Linked DNA regions of Homo sapiens: region 2 is linked to region 1. The links come from fine-mapping of genetic effects on gene expression. A gene starts in region 1. The other region holds a variant in brackets. All regions are shown on one strand. Distances are between the middles of the regions.

Region 1 (11,495 bases):
GGCCCATCAGCCTTTGTGGTCTGCACAAAACTCCCTCTGGTCACTGCCAGATACTGGGCTCATCCGCCTGCCAGGCTGCAGTAGTGGGCGTCTCGGGGCCTCTGTGACTGACCTCCTAGACAAACAGCAGACTGGCTCTTTCCACAGAGAGCCCTGCCACCAATTACGTCCTGGTTTGTGGCGGGGAATGCCGGCCTCCCCTCCTCAGGGCAGTCATGCGCCTACCGTGGACAGGTGGGCCAGTGTGGGATGTGCCTCTTGGCCTGGCCCCCACCCCAGCGGAGCCTGGGGGCAGCCTTTTGTCACACCCACGAGGAATTCTGCACAGGAACCAGGGGCCCTGGGCTGGGAGCCGGACGTCGGCAGGGATGAGTGTGGCATCTTTGTCGGCCCCATCGCCTCATCTCGCGCCACTGAGCGCCCGGGAACAAGGGGGGTCGGGGGAGCTGAATGGGAGCCGACCCAGGCACAAAGGGAGAGGGGCCCCCACGGGCCGCCAGGGGTGTGGCGGCCCATCCGAGACTTCATCCCGAGAGAATAAACAACTTCGGCCTTGTTAAAGAGAGGGCCGCCGGCGAGGGGCCGGGAAGAAAGGCAGCCACCCTGAAGGGGAGACAAAGCCGGCTGCTGGGCGCCGTAACAACTTAGAAAAAGAAATCCTTAACGAGCCGAGCCACCTCTTTTCCCCTTTAAATGGGAGCAGTTCCACCCAGTCTGAGAGCCGGGAGCCATGAATGAAAACCTTCTCATTGAGGCAAATCAGAACCGCACACAGAAACCGCTTCTGCAGGGAGCGACAGGTTCTAGCTGGCTCCGCACCTTGTGCACCCCCCCGTCTCCAGGGGCACACACAGCGTGGAGTCACTGGGGCCACGTTGTTTCAGAAGCTCGTGCCCCCACCCCAGTGTGTGGTGCTGTCTGTGCTTAGATTAGGAGCCACCCAGAATTAGACACCAAAGCTCCAGGATTTGACCCTATCCGCTGCCTGGTTGTAAAGGGAAGTGACAGCTGTCCCGGAAGCTCCTTGGCACTGGACGTTCCTCACCTGGCCTCCCACGGAGCCAAGGGCGCACCTGCCCTGAAACCCCCATGCGTGAGTGTATGCAGCATGTGCACACCTGCTGGGGACCTGGGGCCAGGAATGCCTAGTGCAGGGAGAACACCCAGCATCACCTTTAAATGTAACCTTTGCCACGTGGAGGGCAAAAACACCTTCCTAGACTCTTTCCCACGCCTCCACCTCCTTCAACCTGTTTCTGACTTTAAGCAGCCGTAAGTCACTCTTGTCTCCACAGATGTCCAGCAGGAACAAGGCACTGGCTGCTCAGTTACGTTCCATGGGGTGGCCACGGGTCAGGACCCGGAGCACTTTGCAGGGGTGGGTCCCCTGGTCTCCTGCCCCTCCCTCGGGACCCACCCTGGAGTGGACTCCACAGTCACTGAGAGCACGTGCACAGCTGGGTCCCCAAGTGTCCCTCCTCCTTCACCCACCGCTGGGGGCGCCTTCGCAGACAAAGGGTGTGCAGTAGTGGGAAGGACGAGAATCTGCACCTGCCCACTGCCTCCCACTAGCACCCAGGGGTCCTGGGAGGGGAGCTCCACTGCTGGAGCCACCCTGTAGGGAGGCTGTGCAAGAACCACGCCCCACGTTCTCTCCAGGAAACTTTGCATTTCTCTGAAGCCACTTTCAGCTCCATAAAAGGCTGTCTGGAGTCTCCGGAGGCCTCTCTCCTCTGAGGAGCACCAGCCAGAGAATGCCTCCCTGTCTGCCGCATGCCCCCCCACCCCAGACCCATCCAGACTGGTCGACATCCTTGGCATCTTCATCTGCCCACCTTGGGGACTCGCTTGGAAACGTGGGGGAGGGGTTCATGCCCCAAGCAGGTGGAGGAGGTGGGGGAGGCCTCACGCCTAAACCAGAACCCATTCTGGAATACCGGCTGCGGGCTACCGGTGTCAGAAGGGAGCTCTGAAGTAGGCTTGGGGGGCTCTGCCCTCTGGGGAGGGGAGAAGATGCTACTGCCTCTTTGATGCCCCGTGGGCCTTGTGGCCTAGGTCACCCAGAGTGAGCCCCCAAACAGATGTGACAACTGAGGCTTGACCAAAGGTGGGCCACAGCAGAGCTGGGTGGGATGGGGCCATGCTCCCCCATGAAGGTAACCAGGCCTCCTGGGCCAGGGAAGGAGGCGGTCACAGGGGGGTCAGAGGCAGGGCTGGGGACAGCAGGAGGCGGCACCCTGTGTATGTGCGAGTCTGTCCCCACTGGGTTCTGGGGCCAAGGCCATGTCAGGGAGGGGCCTCTGGGGCCATGCCAGGGGAAGTGAGGACTGGGTGCTTCTGCTGCCCACGGTGGCGGCCCAAGCTGAGAGTGCTCTGAAGCGCCCCCTCAGGGCTCAGCTGAGCCCGGCTGGCTGCCGGCACCCCTGGCAGGGCCTCAGGCAGCCGAGCTCCTCTGCTGGACACCCCTGCACTCGGCTGCCCAGAGCACGTGGTGCAGGCAGGCCGACAGCTCTCCCCGCCCCTGGAGGCGCCTCTGGCAGGTGGCCCAGCCTGGGAGAGGCCAGGAGGGGGCCTCTGCAGCTCAGGCTCCTTAAGGACACAAGAAGGGCTGGAGGTGGGTGGAGAAAGGAGGCGGCCCTGTGGCCAAGGTAAACCCCTTTCAGCATGGAGTGGCCACAGGCTGCCTGGCCTGAAGGACGAGGCCAGAGTAACGGGACACAGGCAGGCTGAGCCGTCCACACCAATGCCCAAGGTACTGCATGGTGGCCGTGAGGGAGCAAATCTCCCTCCATCCAGCGCGACAAACAATCCAGGGCCTCTGCTCACCAGAGCTGGAAGAGCGCTCTCCAGCGCAGGAGGGGGTCTGGGGACATCTTCCCAGACAGCACCCAGGTGGAGAGCAAGAAGCCGGCCAGGGTCACCTAAGGAGCCGGCTCTCAAGGGGAGGCCGGGGGCTGCCGGGCCTGCCCTACCTGTGGCACAGAGGGCAACGAAGGTCTGCGCGTGTTTGCGGATGATCTGTTTGTTCTCCTCCGCCTCTGGCATTTTGGAGAGGAAGTGTTCAATGAAATCGTGCGGGGTCATTGCGGCCAGGTTCCACTTGAGCTTGTTCACCAGGAGCAGCTCCATTTGCTGCGAACACAGGGTGAGCGGCCATCAGGGGAGGTGCGGGCCAGCCCGGGGGCGCGGGGAAGCCGGCAGCACGGGGGCCGGGCCACGCCGCACCTCCGGCTCAGAGCACTGGCCCCTGCGTCTCGTGCGGTCCTGGATGTTGGAGGGGAGGGCTGGCGAATGCTGGGGACTCAAGGGAGCTGGGGCAACACGCAATCCCAGATCAAAACAGAAAAGGCGCCCGCCGCGTGAAAAGACTCTGCAAGTGGAAACAAAAAGACCTCCCACCACCTGGAACTGGAGGCTCAGCGCCGAGCGCGGCGCTCCTCGTGCAGCCGCTGGAGGGCGCGCGCCGCCCACTTTTCGGCCACACCGCGGGGCGCGAACGCGGTGGGAGTCGCAGGCAAGCGCACACAGGGCGGCGGGACGAGGGCGGCTAGGATCCCGCCCGCTCCCCGGACAGGGACGCCCGGCGGCGGGGCCGCCCTCCCTCGGAGGAGCAGATATGTCAGAGGCGGGCCGGCCGCCACCGCCTGCACCTTCCCCGGCCCCGTGGTCCTGCGTGCGGCTCGCGGGGGGCGGGGGGCGGCGGGGTCCAGTGGTTACCAGCAGCTCCTCGGGCCGGATGGAGTTGTCGGTGTAGATGCACAGCTTCTCGGCCGTCAGGGGGATGGTCTCCTTCATCTTAGAGGCCACGAACATGCAAGTGGCCCCCAGCAGCTGCAGGCGGCTCTTTTTCACGGGCTCCAGCGACAGGAAGCGGTCCAGGTAGTTCATGGCCAGCGGGAAGACCTCCTCCTCGCACTTCTGTTCCTCGCAGACCTACGGAGGCACGGGGCCCGTGACCGCCGCCGCCAGGTCGCGCCGCCCCCCCGCACGCCCCCGCACCCCCCATCGCGCTTGGCAGGGCCGCCAGGTCTGGAGGGCGCCGAGGGGTCGGGGCTGGGGGCGGCAGGAGCTTCCCGTGATGCGCCCCCTCCCCCGCGCGTCCCCAGTACCCACCCTCCCCGAAACTGAAAGGGAAAGTCCCCGCGAGGCTGGCACGGTGGGGGCGGGAGCGGGCACAGCTGGGCGGCGTGCGCGGCGGCGCGGGCTGCCGGCCCCCGGGACCCTGGCCCGCCCTGGAGCTCCGTGGTCCCTCTGACTGGGGGTCGACACCAACTGGGGTGCGGGGCCGCGGAACGGGCCGCGGGGTTGGGCGCCGCGCCTGCGAGACACAAAGGTGGCGTCCCAGGCCGCCGCGCCGCATTTCCCCAGACGTCATCTTTTCAAAAAATATTTAAAAATATTAAAAAAATAACTAAGTGCATAAAAAAACCCTGAAAATGACCCTCGGGCGACCCTTTACCCAGGCCGGGGGTTGGGAGTTCGTTACAGGCTCCGGGGGGAGCCCCAGGAATTCAAACTCCGGGGCCCCCCCTTCCCCCTGGGCGCGGGCGGCGTTTCCCTCTCGCAAGGGCACCACGCCGCACTTTCAAAAATTATTTTAAAATACTTGCGGGCCCCTCAGGCGCCCACCGAAGGTCTGAAAATGTGCTCCCAGGCCCCCGGCTCGCTCGGAGAAGGTCCTCCAAGCCGATATCCCTGCAGACGGGGATCAAGCCCTGGCGTCTTGGGGGCCACGCGACCTTGCAGCTCGCCGTGCTCTCCGGCCCAGGCTGCCCGTTCGGGGCGCCCCGGGACTCGCTGCTTGAACAAAGGCCCCCCCTTCCCTAGCGGCGTCCCCCCAAAACTACCCATGCCGCGTCCCTGCGCCCCTCCCGCGGGCTCCCGGCAGCCGCGCGGCCCTTAGCTGCGGCCCCAGCGCCCGGCGGCCGCTCCCCGCCCCCACCCTGCCCCCAATTATTAATAAACACTTTTGCTTTGCAATAAAAGAGCAAAGATGGCGCATAATACTGGCACGAGCGGCCCTTGCATACGTGTCCATGGATATTAATTTAAAAATCAAATCTATGCCCCCTCCCCCCGGAGTTGGCGGCTCCCGGCCGCTGAGGCGCAGCCGGGCTGGGGCGCAGGCGGGGGACACAAAGCGCACCCAGCCTGCCAGCCCGCACCCTCGGGCCCATTGGGGTGCCCCTGGCACTGGCTTCTCCCGAAGGCACCCCTCCCGGACCCCCTTCTCCCCTCCCACGAAACGCTACTTCTAGCACCCCCACCCCCACCCCTTCCTCCTTCAGAAAATACCCGCAATTTTTATTTTGAAAATACGGATCCCTAGAAACACCACGGCAAACTTCAAAGTTCTAGCGGGAGAGAAGGGAGGGGGGTGAGTAGCAAAGAAACGTGGGTCTGGGCAACAAGTTGCAGGGAAGTCTTAAGAGAGCCGCCCGAAGCCCCGCACCTCCAGCATCCAGGTGGCGACGATCTTCCGCATGGACGGCAGGACCTCCTTCTGCACACATTTGAAGTAGGACACCGAGGGCGCGCAGGTCTCCTCCGCCTTCAGCATGGCCCGCAGCACCCGGTCGTTGAGGAGGTTGGCATCGGGGTACGCGCGGCGGATGGTTTCCACTTCGCAGCACAGGAGCTGGTGTTCCATGGCTGGGGCTCTTCCTGGGCAGCTGGGGAGGGCTGTGGGTCCTGGCTGGGTCCGCGCTCGGCTCTCGCTTCTGCTGCCCCGCGCTCCCTCGCGCTCTTCTGCCCCTCGCCGGAGCGTGCGGACTCTGCTGCTCGCTGCTACTGCGCCGACAGCCCTCTGGAGGCTCCAGGACTTTGCAACTTCAACAAAACTCCCCTGTAGTCCGTGTGACGTTACTGTTGTTAAGCAAAGATCAAAGCCCGGCAGAGAATGGGAGCGGGAGGGGGGCGGGGGCGGGCGCAGGGGGAGGGGGCGCGGGCGCCAAACGCCGGGAGCAGCGAGGGGCAGAGCCCAAAAGCCATCCCTGAGGCGCCGCGCCTGCCCTGCGGCGGAGTTGCCCCTGTAGTCCGGTTTTCATAGAAATGCAAATCGCCCCGCTGCAGCCTTTCTCCCCGCCAGGGAAGAGGGGTGCAGGGGGCCCCGTCCGCCTCGAGTGGGTCCCCCGGGATTTAGGGGGTGAGGTGGAGGTGGCTCTGCAGTAGGGGACAACTAGGAAGGCCGGCAGGCCACACGCAGCCTGGGGAGACCACGAGAAGGGGTGACTGGGGCGCGGCGACACCCCATATCCAAGCCGGCAGAATGGGCGCATTTCCAAGAACGCCACGAGGGCACCCACGGGCGGACAGACGGCCAAAGAATCTCAGCGACTGCATCTTCTTTCATTTTCATTAACACGTGTAAATTGCAAGAACTAATTTAGCATGCAAGGACGGGGAGGACCGGGCACACAACCCCTGTGCAAGTTTCATTCCGGCGCACAGGGGCGTCGTTGCAAATGCCCAAGGGGGTAACCCTAAAAGTTAAAGGGATTTCAGCTTAGCATGCGCTCGCTCAAAAAATAAAATAAAATAAATGCCCGAAAATTCCAGCAGCAGCCCAAGATGGTGGCCAGCATTTCCTTCATCTTGTCCTTCTAGCCTGGAGACTCTTCGGGCTGCCTTCCTACCTTGACCAGTCGGTCCTTGCGGGGGTCCCCAACTGCACCCCCTCCCTTCCCGTGCCGGCAATTTAACCGGGAGAAACACACCTCTGAATGGAAAGCTGAGAAACAGTGATCTCCATTCTGACTCATTTTTTTTAATTAAAAAAGAAATTAAATTGCTGGAAATATTAGTCCCCTCTGCCTGGGACAAGACCACCGAAGGTTCCTAATTGGTTTTGTTGGGGGTGTAGACGTCCCTTCACCTTTAGAATTTGCCCTGGGACTGAATTCGTGAGCGTGAGGGGGCTGGCAGGAGCCGGCATAATTCAGAACAATTATCAATTAAACAAACGAGTGTACTGATCTGATTTTTAGCAAAATCGATAGGTGTTCGTGGTTACATGAGAGGGTCCCCAATATTATCGCAAACTTAAGCAGATGTAAATTAAAATACACAGTTTTTAAAATTACAGGTTCTGTCTCTTTGGTGCATTAAAAAATAAAAGGACATTTTACTGTCTTAACTTTTGTTTTTATTTTTACAGTACCTGCCCCAAATTAAGAAAACTGTTCATTTACTTCCTTTTGAATATAGTTCAGTGTCATCAAACCACCGTACCCTCTTAACAGTAAAAGCTCAAAGAAAACTGATAGAAAAAGCCCTCTCCCCTTCGCCAGGGTGCTCACAGCAAGATGCGACCCCCCCCACCCCCACCTTTCAGGGTGAATTCCTCCCGCGCCCCCTCCCCCGCCGGGAATTAGGATTACTAATATTCCGGGTCCTGGGGGGGTAATTACCCCCGGATTCCGCATGGGGAGCGATGGGTTGCCCCAGCAGGGAGCACCTACGGTCGTGCCCCCCCCCACTCCCCGAGCACCCACAATCGCGTTGGCCCCCGCATAGCCAAGCCTCAGAGCATCAGCCCGCGCACAAGGGCGGCCCAGCTGCTTTTTCATTCATAAAATCCCGACCCGGCGGCCGCCTGGATGATTTATGGGGCCCGGAGCTATCACCCGGCCTCTCCCATCCCGTGGGGCGAGGGGCCCCGAGCCCCGCGTGCGCCCTGGCCCAGCCCGAGGCGCGAAGCGGGCCGAAGTCGGCTAGGGGCAGCAGGGCATAAAGAGGCTCGCCCACTCCGGCACAACCGGCTCTGGGTCCAGGAGGGAGCTTCACCCCCCCATCCCGGGCGCAAGACAGAGGAAACTGGAATTAGCATGAGCCAATGGGGGCGCGGCGCTGTTACTAGGCGGACCGGGCAGATCTCGACTAGGAACTTCGTTGATTTCCCGGCTCAGGGACGAGCGCAAAATTGCAAGCCCGGTTAGCGAGCGTAAAGAGCCGTCCAGGAACCCGCGGGGGAGGCGCTGGAATTTGGGGCCCGGCGCTGGAATTTGGGGCCCGGCGGGGAGCGCCAGCTGCCCAGCCCCCACCTGGGGGAACCCTGCTTGGCGGCCCCCGGGTCCCCCGAGGGGGCCAATACCTCTGGGCTTTTGAGGGTCATTGCTTCAAGAAGCGCAGAGAAAGCATTTTGATTTTATTTTTTCCAAAGAGAAAAGCAACTTTAAAAAACTTTTCGGTTGCAGTTTTACTTTACACTGTCTTCTTAAAACCCACCACGAAGCAGGAACTGCGGATTCTGGGCTCATTTAAAGTGCTCTGTTCTTATTTCTTGGTGACCATTTGGAGACAAAGGGCAAGTGGCCCAGTCGGGAGGGTAACCACGTTGTTTGAAAGAAAATCCAAAATTAACTGAAATCACCTTCACGCTTTCCTCGCCCCCTGGCCCCCGCCCCGGTGACCGCGGCCTGGGCGGATGGTCGGTCAGGAGAAAGCGAATTCCGCTGCAGGCGCGTGTTCGCCACCGTCCCTGGCTGTGGGAACCTTCATTCAGGCGGGGGAAGGGAGCGCGTTCATTCAGGAACCGGCGCGCCGCGACGCAGACCCCGGGACTCAGCGCGGCTGCGCGCCGCGGGGCTCGGGGCTTGGGTTGGGGGCGGGTGGTGCAGGGACCAGTCCCGACCTTTCGCCAGCGACCTCCCGCACCCGCTTTTCCACCAGGGCGGCTGGCGGGCGGGCGCACCCAGGTGGGGTCACCTGCAGCCGCATACCTGGCGGCGACTTGAAAGGACTTGGCTCAGGCTCCGCGAGTTTTCCATTGTTAAGCCCTTAAGTCGCCCGGGAAAACGCTTCCGAAAGCCGGCCCCTGGGCTCCGAAGGCGCTCGAGCTCCCCTTCCCCCCACACTGCTTGCTTTTGGGGTGCGCGTGGCGGCCCACGTGCTATGGCAGCTCTGCTTCGCTTACGTAGCGCCGATCCCAGGCGCCCCAAAACTGCGAGGTGGGCCGGGGCGAACTCCGGCCCCAGTGCCCACCCGAGACAGCCACACGCTCGGCACATGGACAGCCGCACCGCCCCCCCCATCGCCCCAACCGCAGACGTGCGTTTCCGCTCCAGATCAATTAGTTTCAGCCACACACAGACCACCCTGCCACCGCCCCTCCCGTGCCCCAGTCGTCTGTCCGGCGGGCTGCGGGGAAACGAGACCCCTCCCCTAGCTCCGAGGGCTGCCGGCAAGGTGTGCGCTGGAGTTAAAACGCAAACCCAACAGGTAGGGGGGCGGCCCTGGCTCCAACGACGCATCTGGGATCCCGAGGCTGAAGGCGCAACTCTTGAGGGTTAAAGGCGATTCTAATTCCTCGACTCCCGCCCCTCAAAACGCATCGGCTGGTACCCTGAGCAATATGAACCCCCAAATCCACCAGAGATTCCCTGGCCTTCCGGCCCCAGCCCCTCTCAGACCAAGTGGTGGGGAGTAGGCGCCCAGATCGAGAAGAAAACCACTTCCGACCACAGGAGAGAAAGCTGGCTGGGGGTGACCTCGGAGGTCACGTTCGGCCCTCTCCCCCGCAGTCAGGCCTGGCCGCGGCCCACCCGAGGCTGAGCAGACCCCCGCGTCGGACGGAGACGCAGGGCTTCGCTGCGGGACTCGCGGGGCCTAGGAAACCTGCGGCGGCGGCTCGCGGGAGCCGGTTTTCCGGCGGAGGATCCGCGCTGAGGCCCTCGTGGGCTCCCACGGCATGCCCCACTCCGGAACTTGCCGCGCCCTCCCCCGCCCTTTCCGGAAGACTGCGGGGAGGACCCCGCATCCCCGCGCCTCTCCAGCTCGCTCCTCAATGCCCTTGGAACGCTTGAAAGCGCTTCCATCCCTCGCTTTGGCACTTGGGGGTGGGTGGAGGGACAGCGGGGTCGTTATTACGGGGCGCCTTAGAGTTCTGGTTATCCGGACACTCAACAAGCAGGGGAGGGGAGGGAAAGGGAGTTTTTTTCCAGGTGCGGGGAAACGGGTTGCGTACCTAATGCCCCGCGCCCTTCCCCTGGGGTCCCTGGAGCCCGTGCCTTAAGGGCTGGGGGCAGGACTCGGATTCGGACCCCTTAGGGAATTCTGGGTCCTCAGGGTCTGAGGGACTGATGGGCCGCGCTCGGTCCCCAAGCCCCTTCTGTGTGTTCACGCGGGGCACGACTTGCCCAGCGAGTTCTGGGCGGCAGGGCCAGGGCCGGGGTGCGGCTGGGAGAGGTGAGGGGAGGAGGCGAGAGCGCGCGCCGCCGGACCCTGGGCCGTGGCTCGGGAACCGCGCGAGGCCGCGCCGCGCATTCCGCGCATTCCCGCCGGGCCTCGGTTCCACCGCCACGTGGTTGCCCTGCGTCCGCGTTTACCGTAAGGCTTAGAAAAAGCGCGCATTACGGTTCCGGAGCGCATGCGGACCTCCCAGGACGCTTAACTCGAGCACCAGTCCAGCTGTGGTGCCGAACATACTCCTTCCCTGCGGGTAGATAGGGGCTGCTTTTTTACGTAATAAGGCGGGTTGTACTGCTGGAGCGATAGCATGTTCATCTGTAAAGACGGGCAGGAAGGAGTGTGCTCGGCCCTACTGGAATCCGTAATAAGGCGACTGTCCGGCTGAAGAAAGTGACAGAACCGGGCCGTGACCATTCCACCTTCTCAGCGGTGGTAAAGCACCAAATAGCAGCTGCAGCCTTCCGATGGCGTCCAGTGCACTGTGGCTGGAAAGCTCGGAGCAAGAAGGTGCTTAACAAATAGGAAAACGTCCAGAAACTGCCTATAGCTACATTTTATTTTTTTTTTCTTGAGGGTCACTTTAAGATAAAGAATCTAGTGCATCCCTGGACCCTGAGGCCGACCTTAACCAACAGGATGCCTGCCTGGGCTCATGAGGTTCAGGGCATGATTGGGGCCCCCTGAGACACAGGCTAGGTTGTGTTGCCTCCCCAGGCTTGGATAAGTCAGAGGAATCCTTAGGCCCCTCCTGGACCATCTCGCTGAATCCTGACTTAGAGAGCTGTCTCTGCTATCCTATGGGAGAGAGACAGGTTATGTGCCCTAGGGTGGAGGGGGCTGCATTGGTCCCCATGCTTCTAGACACACTTCTAGCCCTGAGCAGCACCAGTTCACCCAGTCTAAGGGAAGCATGGCCATTTGCTTTGAGGTCCATCTCCTGTAGGGTTTGGAGAAAAAGCCTTCACTCACCACCCATCCTCATCTTCTCACTTCTATGAGGTGTTTCCTCCAGCCAACTTATAGTTTCACACACTTAATCTCAGGGAAATGCGTTTAATGGTAAGGAAACCGAGGCACAGAGAAACCAGGTGCCTTGTTCAGGTTCACAACATTGGCAACGGTGATGGTCTGTAGCCATTTCATGGACACTGTCAGAATAAATCCAGCTTGCTTAGAAGCTGGTAAAGATAAAAATCTACTTTTTCAAGAATTCATGCAAAGCCAAACCACTTTTTTTTCCCTCAAAATTTCAGGCAGGTGGCAGCCACATTTATGAAACTGAACAAGAATGTCACATACAGACCTAC
Region 2 (11,495 bases), 330 kb after region 1:
AGGCACTGTGCTGAGCTTGTTACATCTATCATCATAACATCCCGAGGAGGTGGAAAGTTCCATTTTCCAGGTGACAACACAGAGACCTAAAGAAGTCAAGTGACTAACATAAGGATGAGAGAGAAAGTGGTAGGACCAGGATTCAAACATAGGTCTCTCTGACTCCAGAGTCCGTGTGCTTCACCTCTAGGCTCTGAGACTGGATGTGTGTCCAGCTGTTCTTCAAGCCAATTTCTTCCAGAGTCCCTGAAAATGGCTGGAAATGGCTCATTGTCATGGTGGAAGAGCCTGCTGATGGAGGAAATAAACCACTACCACAGCCACCATCATCAGAAACAACAACTCTATCACCATAGCAATTGGTGGTAGGATCATTTGAACCTGGGAGGTCAAGGCTCCAGTGAGTCTCAGCAGAGGAGTAGGGGGTGGGTGGCAGCTAGGGTTAGGGTTACGGTTAGGGTTAGGCCAGTCCAGTTGCTGAGGTGAAACGGCTGGGAAGCATCCTTCTCCCCAACAGCCAAATCATAAATCAACTCTGTTGTCTGTGCCTTCAAACATGTCCTGAACCTGCCCCATCTCCCCAGCTGCACTACCTCCCTCTCTAGCCTGGTCCATGGTGATGCCCTCTCACTGCCTTCCTGCTTTCCCCTCACGTGCCTTTCTGTATAGCCCCATGGAGTAGCCACAGTGATCCTTTACAGAACTCAGACCATTCCTCCTCCTGTTTAACACCCTCCTGTGCCTTCCAACCTACACAGAACAAAATCCATGCCTCTGGCCATGGCCTACAAAGTCCAGTGTGATCTGCCCTGTCCTGTTTCTCTATTGCTATTTCAGGCCACAGCTCCCTCTCTTATTCCACTCCAAGTACTCAAATCTTTTTACATTATTGAACAAGTCCAACTTTGCTCCTGCCTCAGGACCAGTGCACTTACTGTTCTCATGTCTTCCCCAGATCTTCATACAGCTGACTCTTGCCATTCAGTCCTCAGTTCCAATCTTATCCTCTCATCAACTCTCCCTGATGCCCCTAACTAAAGTGCCCCCCAGTAAGCTTCAGGCAGTCATCACCTTTAAAACATTTTGTTTGGGCTTTATTTGCATATTTCCTAGCTTCTCAACTAGATGCCAAGCTCCATGAGGTCATGGATTGTATCTTGTTCCCTGTGGTATCCCCAGCACCTCATACAATATCTGGCAAAAAGAGACACTCAGAAGCACTGATCAGGTAAATTAATTTGGGTTGATCTATACAGTCTCAAAGTTCCTGCTTCTATGGTTTAATCAGAATCTAAAGATTCTAGTTGTATTGTTTAACTTTCCACTTATTCATCTAATCATCTGTCCATCATCCACACATCCAACTGTCCATCCATCACCCATCCACCCACCTATTCAGTTATCCATCATCCATTTATCCAACCATTATCCATCCATCCATCCATATATCCATCCATGTACTTATCCTTCCATGCATCCTTCTAACCATACACATACACCTACATACCCATCCATCCAATGATTCTTAGCCCCCACTCTGTGCTTGGTGCTGAAGACCCAAGTTTAACCAGGACATGAAATCTATGCTAGAGAAACTCCCAGCCTTGTCCTCCTCTTCCCTCTGTTCCTTATACTGTGAGCTGCTCCAGGTAGGAACTGCATTAACCTTGTAGGCAGATGCAGGCAAAGTCCTAGGAGGCTGCTCCTGTTTGTAGATAGGTCTACACCTTCTTGGGACTTAGATTTAGACCTTCACCTCTTTCTTCTGTGCCCTGGTCACTGTTGGCTGTCCCCTGGGGCAGAGTCAACAAATTTATCCAGCTCTGAGGCTCCAGATATAAGGGATTTGAGGAGAAGACTCTGCCCCATCCTGAAGAGTCAGCTGAAGCATTTCAAAATTCAGAATGAAGTTCTGAGGGCCTGATGTGTGGTGTGATCTTTGTGCCACAAGACAAGAGGAAGGAGCAAGATAATGCCTGGGGTAGGCAAGAAGTCTTCCTGGAGGAGTTAGGGTTAGAGGTGGACCTAAAGGAAGGGGGCCTTGGGGAGGAGGAGTAAGGGTGAGAAGTATGATGCAAAGGCAGGGATGAGTGTAGTATGAATGTGGGCTGCTAGTGGGGAAGCACAATACTAGTACCCAATGAACTCCTACTCATCCTTCAACACCCAGTCCAAATGACCCCACTTGAGAAGGCTTTCCTAAACTGCCCACTCTCATCCTCCTATTCTCTTCAGACAGAGAGAATAATGATGGAAATGGTGATGCTAAAAATAATCATAACAGTTACTTAGCACCTTCCATGCCAGGCACAGTAACAAATACCTTGTGTCTATCATCTCATCTAACACTATAGCAGTTCACCATTGCACTACCTTATCCCCACTTTTCAGATGAGAAATTGAGGCTTAGGGTGAGTGGGTGGGTTTACATCTTCTTAGTTATAGAAGTTTCCTGACCTATCAGGGGGATTTATTTGTCTTCTGTCTCCCCTGCCTCCACTGCTCATATATACACACTGGAAGTGTCTATATATGCCCAACAGGGCAGGGACAATTTGATTATTTTCTGGGTCTTTGGAGGCCAGTAGAAGATGTGCCCTAGTGCAAGTCTTGTATGAATGTTGGATGGATGGAAGGATGGATGGTTGAGTGGATGAATGGATGGATGGATGGATGGATGAATTAGTGGATGGATGGGTGAATGGATGAATGGATGGATGGATGGATGGATGGATGGATGGATGGATAGATGTACTAGTAGATGGATGGGTACAAGGAGGGGTGGATGGATGAGTGGATGAGTCCGAAGGGTGGGTGGATGGATGGATGGATGGATGGATGGGTGGATGGATGGACCAATGGGTGGATGGGTGGGTGGATGGATGGGCGAATGAGTGGATGGATGGATGGGTGGATGGATGGATGGGTGGATGGATGGATGGATGGATGGATATGTGTGTGTGTGTGAATGAGTGGTTAGATGGATGGGGGGGATGGATGGATGAATGGATGGATGGATGGATGGATGAATGGATGCGTGGATGGACGAATGGATGGATGAATGGATGGATGGATGGATGGATGGATGGATGGATGGATGGATGAATGGATGGATGGATGGATGGATGGATGGATGGATGGATGGATGGGTGGATGGGTGGATGGATGGATGGATGGATGGATGTGTGGGTGGATGAGTGGGTGAATGGGTGGATGGGTGGGTAGGTGGCATATAGAAGCCCTACCATCTCTCTGAAGTTGTTGGTTTTGTGGTGCCTCAGTGTGGCCCATATGAAGACAGCTTCTTGACTGTACCAGAGCTGAGCAAGCGCTGGAGGCCACGTCAGCCCCTCCCATCTTCCCCCCCACACACCTCTCTCTCTTTCATGGTCATTCCCCAATTTGGCCTCCCATCCCATCTTCCTGTTTAGGGGCTCGGCTTTCCAGGGGATGCCCCCTAAACCAAACCTTCATGGCCCCCAACCCACTTGCAGATGCTGCTGGCTTTGACCTCCCACTCCTCAGCTTCCCCAGTCTAGCCCCCGACCCGGCCCCCACACCTCCCCAGAGCCAGCTCCTCTCCCCGCAGCTGTCCACACTTACAAAGCCAGGACTGTTCGATAAAGCCGTGCCAGCTGGAACAAGACACTTCCCGTCTGACGGGAGGTTCTGCATGGAGCCTGTGGGCAGCTGTCAGCGCGAGGGGCACAGGACCGGATCTGGAGGCTGTTCAGGGCCAGCGCCTCCCTTGGCCCCCTCAAGAGGGGCTCTGCTGGGCCTGGTCCAAGGTCCCAGAAAGGGCTTCTCAGACTGGGGGACCTGGAGTAGGGGTTTTAGCCTCCTGAACCCTTTGGGGCCCTCATACTCCCGTCCCTTTGGGATGCACAGGGGCAGCCTCCACACTGGAGCCTGGGAGCTGGTGACATTTGTTTGTTCTGCCCCAGGGCTCAGCCCACAGTGACCAGGGCACAGAAGGAAGAGGTGAAGGTCTCAATCTAAGACAGGCTGCTCGGTGTGGTCACCTGCAAGCCACGGTGGGCCACCAGGGAGGTCAGAGCAGAGGTAATGGCCAAGAGCAGCCCCAGGAGGAGGCTGCTGCATCCCTTCTAGAAAAATCATCTGCTGAATGTCTTTAGGGCAGCTGAGAAAGTCACTCCACCAGCCCTTTCTGCTTGCTCAAAGTCCACTAGGCAATTATTCCACAACTATTTCTTGAGCACCTAGTACATGCCAGGCATGGGGACACAGGCCTGAGTTCCAGCCCTCATAGAGGCTGCATTCCCACAGCCAGCCTCTACCTTCCACTCCCCCAGGCCCAGCCTGCCCGGAGCTGTGCACCAGGCCTGGACCCAGCCTGGCAGAGCCCCTGCCTTCTCTGGCTCTGACTCCTTCTATAAGGCTCTAATTACATCCTGGGAGAAACAATTAGAATGAAACTATGGGTTGTTTTTTTTTTTTTCTCCCCCCTGCCCCGCCCCAAGCTGGGCCTGTTTAATAACTTAATTAAATAAACAGAATTATAATTATAATGTTAATATTTCCTTTCTGTAATGCCGGCACATTCTGCTGGAAGAAGCTTCTCTTGGGAATGGGAGTGTCCCACAGCCCCCAGCACCTCCCCAGTCCAAGGCTGGCTGCCCACCGGCCTCCCTGCTAGTGCCTCAGCCTGGAGCCCACCCGGTTCTGGGACTCAGCAGAGTTGGCAGGAAACCAGCCGGGGGGGAAACAGCCGCGTTCTCTCCTTCCTGAGTGTTTACAGTCGAGCTCAAACCACACGATGAAAATTACTCTGAAGCTCCTAATTGCACATTTCCTTCCTCTAACCATTTTCTTTTGACAGTTGACTTTGAAAACATTTACCACTTAATTCTCCCGAGGCGGGAAGGAGGGAGAAGGAAGGAGGCTGCCCTGCTAGTGAGAGCTAGCCTCCCTGGAGGGGCCAGGCTTGGAGCAGGCGTCCTCACTAGCAGGGTCCCTGGGGTCCCAGGCTGGGGAGAGTCTTGCCTCTCCTCGCGTCCTCACTAGCTAGGCGACCTGGAACAAGTCAATATTGCTTCCTTGAGTCTCATTTCCTCATCTATAAAATAAGATGAAGAATATTCACTTTGCAAAGTAATGCTATGAGATCAGCCAGCACTTAGTAGGTGCTCAATAAATGTTAGATCCTTTCCTCCAGGCTTCTTGGAAAAACACAGTCCCTGAAGGCAGAAGTCTCCCAGCTCTTATTTCCTCTACACAGTGTGGTGTGGAGAAGTTCAGAGCAGCGGTCTGGGTTCACACACGAGCTTGGCCTCCACCTAGCAGAGCAGTGGGGTCTGGGAAAGCAGCTTGCTTTTTGTGACTCAGTTTCCAGGTCTGTAGGAAGGAATAGTGACAGTGCCTACATCACTGGGTTGCCTGGAGGATTCTGTGACTTATGGGAAAGTATGAACAGGAAACAAAGGATGGCTCAGCAAGGGCTGACAACTATCCGCATGGGTCACTCTGCAGGTGGCTGGACCGAGACAAAGTTGGATTCTAGTCTTGGACACTCTTGTGCTGGGAAAGTCCCTGGTTTCAGGGGCTTTCTGTGTCCCTGCTGTGAAATGGGTA[C/T]GCTGACTCACAGGCTTGCCACAAGGCATGGGGAGGTAGTGGGCAGGAGGCCCCAGTGGGAGGCCTAGCCAATGGCAGGGAGCAGCCACAGTCTTGTCCCAAAGCTAGGAGCCCGAGGAGCCTTTGTCCCAGAGACAATGAAAGGTGGGGGCTGTAGCATCAATAGAGACACCTGTCGGTACTACAGCCACAGTCAGCGGAAGGGAGCACTCGGCGTGGCCAAGAGCGAGACTGGGACCTCTGTGCCCACCCTGCCCAAAGGCAGCAAAGAACCCCCCGGCTCAGGACTCCCCTCCACCCCCATCCATGCCTAGGCTCTGGAGCAGGTGGCCTGGCTTTGCCCCCCTCGCTGTGTGGCCTCAAGCAAGTGACCGAACTGTTCTGAGCTTCCACCTCCACGTCTGCAGACTGGGACTAATCTGGGTTACTGGGAGGACTGGCAAGTTAATACATCACCCAGGGTCTACTGGATCACACAGTAGGCACTCACTGAATGTTGGCATAATGTCCAGGACTGTTATTCATTCCTTCCCAAGCTCTGTGCCACCCCTGAATGGTCCTGGAGCTGACAGAGACAGAACAGCCCCTGGCACTTGCATCCAGGCCAAGTCAGGACCTGGTTTCTGCACCCCTACGGCCCAGACACCCATGTCTCGAGACCCAGTTCTAACGTACCGTCCTCTTGGAGCCTTTCCGCAGGCTTCCTTTCCACATTATACTCATGCCGGGGGCCCACGGGGCTCAGATCCCTGGAGTGCAGGGACAATGGACTTATCTTTGTGGCCCCAGTGCCGTCCTCCTAGTCTTTTCCCACATGCTGTGGGAAGACACAAGGAGATTGGGAGAGGCCGAACTGAGAGCTGGAACGAGACTTAGAAGCACTCACACCAGTGTGCAAAGGGCCCACATTGGCTGGACAGAGACCACCTGCTCGTACCGTGCAGAGCCAAAGGCAGAGAGGAACATAGGGACGGCAGTGGAGATATGGAGAAGGAGACGGATTTGAGAGTCGTGGAAGGAGGTTACAATGATGGAATGAAGCAGAAGAATCTAAGAGCCTGATTCAAGAGATACAAGGGACAGGAATCCCCAGAAGGACGTGTGACACCCATGTGTGAGGCTTGGCCCCATTCCATGAGATGGGGACAGCCCATGGAGGACCAGGATAGGGGCAGGGAGGCCATCCCGTTTGGTTTAGGCCATGTTTGGCTGGGAGCATTTCAGGTGAGAGTCACTGCTCCTCCTCTCTTCATGGGATCACACAGAGAGCCACAAGCAGAGCTGGGAGAAGGATCTGGTCTCCCTTTCCCCCTCATGTGAGTCTAAGACTGTTTCCAGCCCTCCCTGTGGTTTTCCAAGAGGACACTGAGTGGACCGAGTCCAAAGAGGAATGTTCCCTTGAAAACACGCATCCTCTCAGCTGTTTTCCTCTAGAATCATCAGCAAGAGCCCAAAATCCATACATTGTTTTCTGGTGAAAAATAATAGCAATCCTGTCCTGGTTGCCAAGTCTGTGAAATCATGAGCAGCAGACAGGGGACCTCTGGAGCATTCCCAGCGAGCCAGGTGCCAGCAGCCCCCTGTGGCCCTGAGGGCAGGTGCTGCGGGCGGGAGGGTCCGTTAGGGGCCAGCTGGGCCTGGAGTGGAGGCCATAGCCCTCTCTCCTCCAGACACCTGCTTCTGGAGGGACCTTGCCCCCTCCATGCTGAAGTCACTATGTGAATACTAGGACCCCCAGAATTTTTCTCTGGCCAAGATCTCCCCTGAGCCCGGAGCTGCTAACCCAGCAGCTCAAGGCTTCTGCCTCACCCGTGGGAGTCTCTTAAGCAGCTCAACCTCAGTGTGCCCCAAAAGGAACCCACCTCTTTGCCTTCCTTTCTCCAGGTCCCTCTCCTGCTTCCAGTTGCCCCAGCTGCAAACCTGGGAACACATTGAGACCCAGGTCACTGAGCTGCATGTAGTCTCCCTCCTTGAGCTCTCACATCTGCCTCACGCCTCCCACCCCACACTAGCCTCTGCCCAGATAGCTGCCACCACCCCTGACTCACCCGGCAATCTGCCCTCCTTCTATCAGAAAAGGGGTCTTTCAAACAGGATCCGGACAATGCCACCTCCTGCTCCAGTGCACTTCAGGCCACTCCCAGTGGCCCATCAGAACCCCCCACTCACCCCCTCCGCCTGCTTCAGGCCCTGCCTGGGGGCCCCACAGCCACCCACCCCCACGGGACCTCCAATCAGGCCCAAGGCACTCATCACCAAATCTGCCCCAACCTGCATGTCGGCCATGTTTGCAAGAGCTGTTCCCACTCTCAGAATGGTCTTCCCACTCCCCGACCCCAGGGGAAGCTGAGTTGCACCCCCGTCATAGCCCAGGAACCTCTTCCCTGGGATGCATCCCCATCCCCTCCTCCCAGGGCATCCCTGGAGCAGCCCGTATCCCAGGTGCTGCCTGGCGGGCTCCACTTCCCGTGCTAGGTGGCACACTGTGCACCTAAGGCAGTGGGAGCCTTTGGAAAGCTGGGACTTACAGTCACATCTAGCTGGGTTCAGACCCGCAGGAGCAAGAGCCAGGCAACCTCAAGCAGGCCTCGTGGCTGCAGCTTCTGCACATATACAATGTAGGAGACCGCATGACCCAGCCCACAGGGCTACTCCCGCCTTCACCCTACATGGCTTGTTGGCATTCCTATGACGTGCCAGGCATGGTTGTAGGAGTGGTGTGAGAGCAGGGAATGCACAGCCCAAATCCCTGCCACCCAGAAGCTGGCCTGCTCACGGACAGAGGCCCAGCATGTCAGATGGTGCCAAGTGCTCCAAAATATTGGGAGAGGCAACTATAAATAGGGGGCCAGGGAAGGCTCATTGTGCAGGCCTTCATTTGAGCAAAGACTTGAAGAAGAGGAGGAAGCAAATCACATGGGTGTCTGGGAAAGAGCGTCACAGGCAGAGGGCCCAGCCAGGGCAAAGGCCTGGGGTATCAGCTGCCCCAAAAGTATGAGCAGCTGCAGGGATGCCATAGCGGCTGGAGTGGAGGAACAGGGTCGGGAGAGGCAAGATGAGGTTGGAGGGGCAGGCCCGCAGAGGACTTTGCTGCCTCCTCTGAGATGAACCCTTGGAGGGTGAGCAGAGGAAGGGCAGGGTCGAGGCTCAGATGTTAACAGATCGAGGGCCATGGAGATGCCCCTGCAGGAAGCCAGGGCAGCTTGGACCAGAGAGGACTGGGGCTGTGGCAGGGAGTGGTCAGGTGTTGAATGCCGTGTGGAAGGGGTGGGGACATCACATGCTTTGCAGTGCTGTTGGCACGAGCTGTGCACTCGGGTGTGAGAGGGGTTTGTTTGGCCAATAACTGATTAAAATAACGAATCCACAAGACATGATAAAGAGGACGACGGCCAAGGCACAGAGGGTGTGGGAGACCCTCTTCCTGGCCAGGATGATGTGTGTGGACCTCCTGGAAGAGATGGCCTCTGAGCTGGGAGAAGGAAGATGGCTTGGACAATTTCGGGAGCATGTGATCCCCATGAGAGGAACAGAGGAAGCTTCCTATCCTGCCTCCTGCTTTGGCCAGTCCCAAACCCTCCTGGGCCTGGTTGGGCAGGACCCAGAACCTCCCCCCAAGGGACCGGGATGAAAGGAACAGCAAAGGTGGGCTGGGAGTCTCTCAGTGGTTAGCACAAGACCTGTAGCATTTCCCCCCACAACCCCGAGAGCTGGCCCCAGCTCTGGCCCCAGTGCTCATCTGGGCTGTTCTGCCACCTACATGGGCTGCGGGGCTAACTTGGGCCCCAGAATCACAGGCACAGGGCTGCCCCAGCACACCCTGGGGTGTAGAGAAGACAAGCGAGCTCCCTGAGCCTCAGTTTCCCCATCCAGAAAACGAGGGTATTGTGTTACATCTAAGCACGGAGGACCCCTCCTGCTCAACCTCGTTAGGGTTCTGTGGGAGCTGGCACTGTCTTCCAGCAAAGCCCCGCCCTCACCTGCTGGGGTGCCCAGAATTGCTACAGAGCTACTCTGCTTGGCACGTGAAGACCCTGTTGTCTCCATCAAATTGCAAATGTGTGACCTTCAATGAGCAGCCCGTTCATGTCCCAGCCCCTTTCCTGACACTGGTCCTGCCTGGTCCTTTGGCACTGATCAAAGACAGTGGGAAGGGGAAACCAAGTCCTAAGTTTTGAGGTTGGGGCCAAGGAAGGGTGATGTGAGGGAGCGCTGCACTGCCCTAGGTAAGACTCACCGTGAGCAGCAAAGGCAGCGAGTGGTATTGATGGGCTGCCCTCTGCCCACTGTGTTGTGCTGGGCACCATGGCACACTTCAGCAAGCATCCCCTGCATGGCAACCACTGGTCACTGCACTTCACAAAGGATGGAACCAAGGCCCAGGGAGGTGGCTTCTGCACAGGAGGAGGGGAGGGGACACTGGACCCCAGCGGGAGGACGTGAGGGCATTGGTGGTCCTGGAAGGACCTCAGTCTTCACTCCCCCACTGCTACCTGCTCTGTTTTCAGCCTGATTCTTTCTTCTTCAGGGCAAACATAGTCTCTAATAGCTTGGGCATTCGGGTGACTTGGGAAATCCTGCCAGGTTTCCCAAGACAAGAGCTAGGTTCTTATTGTTCTTGGGGACTCTAGCCCCCATCGTGGGGCAGGTGCACAGGGCCTCAGGAGTATTAGGGAATGGAGGGAGCAAGGATGGCCCTTATCTCGGGTGGCCAATGGTCACTGGGGCTTAGGCTGCTGAACAAGGTGGAGGGCAGGCACTTTGCGGATAGAAATGAATCTTTGGGGGCCAGACCCAAGGTTGGCTAGGAGACATGGCCTGTTGGCCTGGCCAAGGGGGCCCACTGTGAGGAGCTAGGGGCCCACTGGCTTCTGAACCAGTGCATTCTCACTCAACTGGCTGCTTTTATGAGCCCTGGACTCTGCAGCCAACTTCCCGGCAGCAAAGTGAAGGGGCATCCCCAAGCCACCTGCCAGCATCCGGCTCCTACTGGTGTGGTGGGAAGGAAGGAGACCCAAGCTCCTGGCCATCCCGCAGCACCCAACTCTGTGCCTGTGGGTCAGGCCCCTTACTACTCAGGGCCTCGATGTCTCCAACACCTGTTATTGGGGGCATTCCAGAAAGGAGAGAGTGTCCACATTGACTAATATCTATGAGAACTGAGAAGGCCCTGGGGGCATGCTGCCAAGAGTCCAGCTTTCTGCCAAGCCAACATAATTCAAAAGGTCGTGTGTCCTTCTGGGCAAGGTCCACACTGGGAGGTCTCCGGGGGCAGTGCTGGGAACAAGAACATTCGAGATCTCTCCTGCACCCACGTGTGACTATGCACACGCCTCAGAGCCTCCCCATGCCTCCACCTGCCCATCTGTTAGATGTGATCCTGCCTCTGTCTCTGCCCTGAGCGTCGTGGAGCTCTGTTTTATGTGGAACTGCAGAAGTCTTCTGCAGCTTCTGCTTGCGGCCTGGCTGTCCTTGACTTTCAAGAGGACCGCTTCCTTATAAAATAACCGGTATCTTTCAAGCTCTCCCACTACACCCACTGTTCTGCAGCTATCCAGGATCTTAGCTTATTTATATCAGCTCACATATATTAGCTCGTTTTATTCTTTTTTTTTTTTTTTTTTTTGAGACAGAGTCTTGCTCTGTTGCCCAGGCTGGAGTGCAGTGGAGTGATCACCGCTAACTACAACCTCCGCCTCCCAGGTTCAAGTGATTCTCCTGCCTCAGCCTCCCGAGTAGCTGGGACTACAGGTGCTCGCCACCACACCCGGCTAATTTTTGTATTTTTAGTAGAGACGTGGTTTCACCAAGTTGGCCAGGCTGGTCTCGAACTCCTGACCTCAAGTGATCTGCCACAACCATGTGGGGGGGAATTATTATTATCGTCATGTCCATGCTACAGA

Direction of the effects. Positions count from the first base shown, and alleles are read on the strand shown. Sizes are in standard deviations (SD) of each study's normalised expression.
For the expression in monocytes after LPS of the gene that starts at base 5,808 in region 1, allele T in region 2 goes with a higher level than allele C (large effect, 0.81 SD a copy in Quach 2016).

What was found.
Region 2: its variant is fine-mapped to the expression of CCND1 in monocytes after LPS (Quach 2016, PIP 0.95).

What each region holds. Positions count from the first base shown.
Region 1 is chr11:69,635,469-69,646,963 of GRCh38, reverse strand. CCND1 (cyclin D1) reads right to left here and starts at 5,808. Exons shown (of 5, transcript NM_053056.3): 1 at 5,453-5,808; 2 at 3,718-3,933; 3 at 2,973-3,132. The coding sequence starts at 5,650. RefSeq lists enhancers at 2,572-3,316, 4,835-5,537, 7,045-7,983, 7,984-8,924 and silencers at 3,533-3,792, 3,923-3,982, 4,073-4,212, 8,737-8,940.
Region 2 is chr11:69,305,425-69,316,919 of GRCh38, reverse strand. No RefSeq gene overlaps it. Among named protein-coding and RNA genes, the nearest start is that of MYEOV, 17 kb to the right of the region's middle. RefSeq lists enhancers at 5,472-5,701, 5,543-6,042. The variant C/T (reference allele first, on the strand shown) is at 5,593.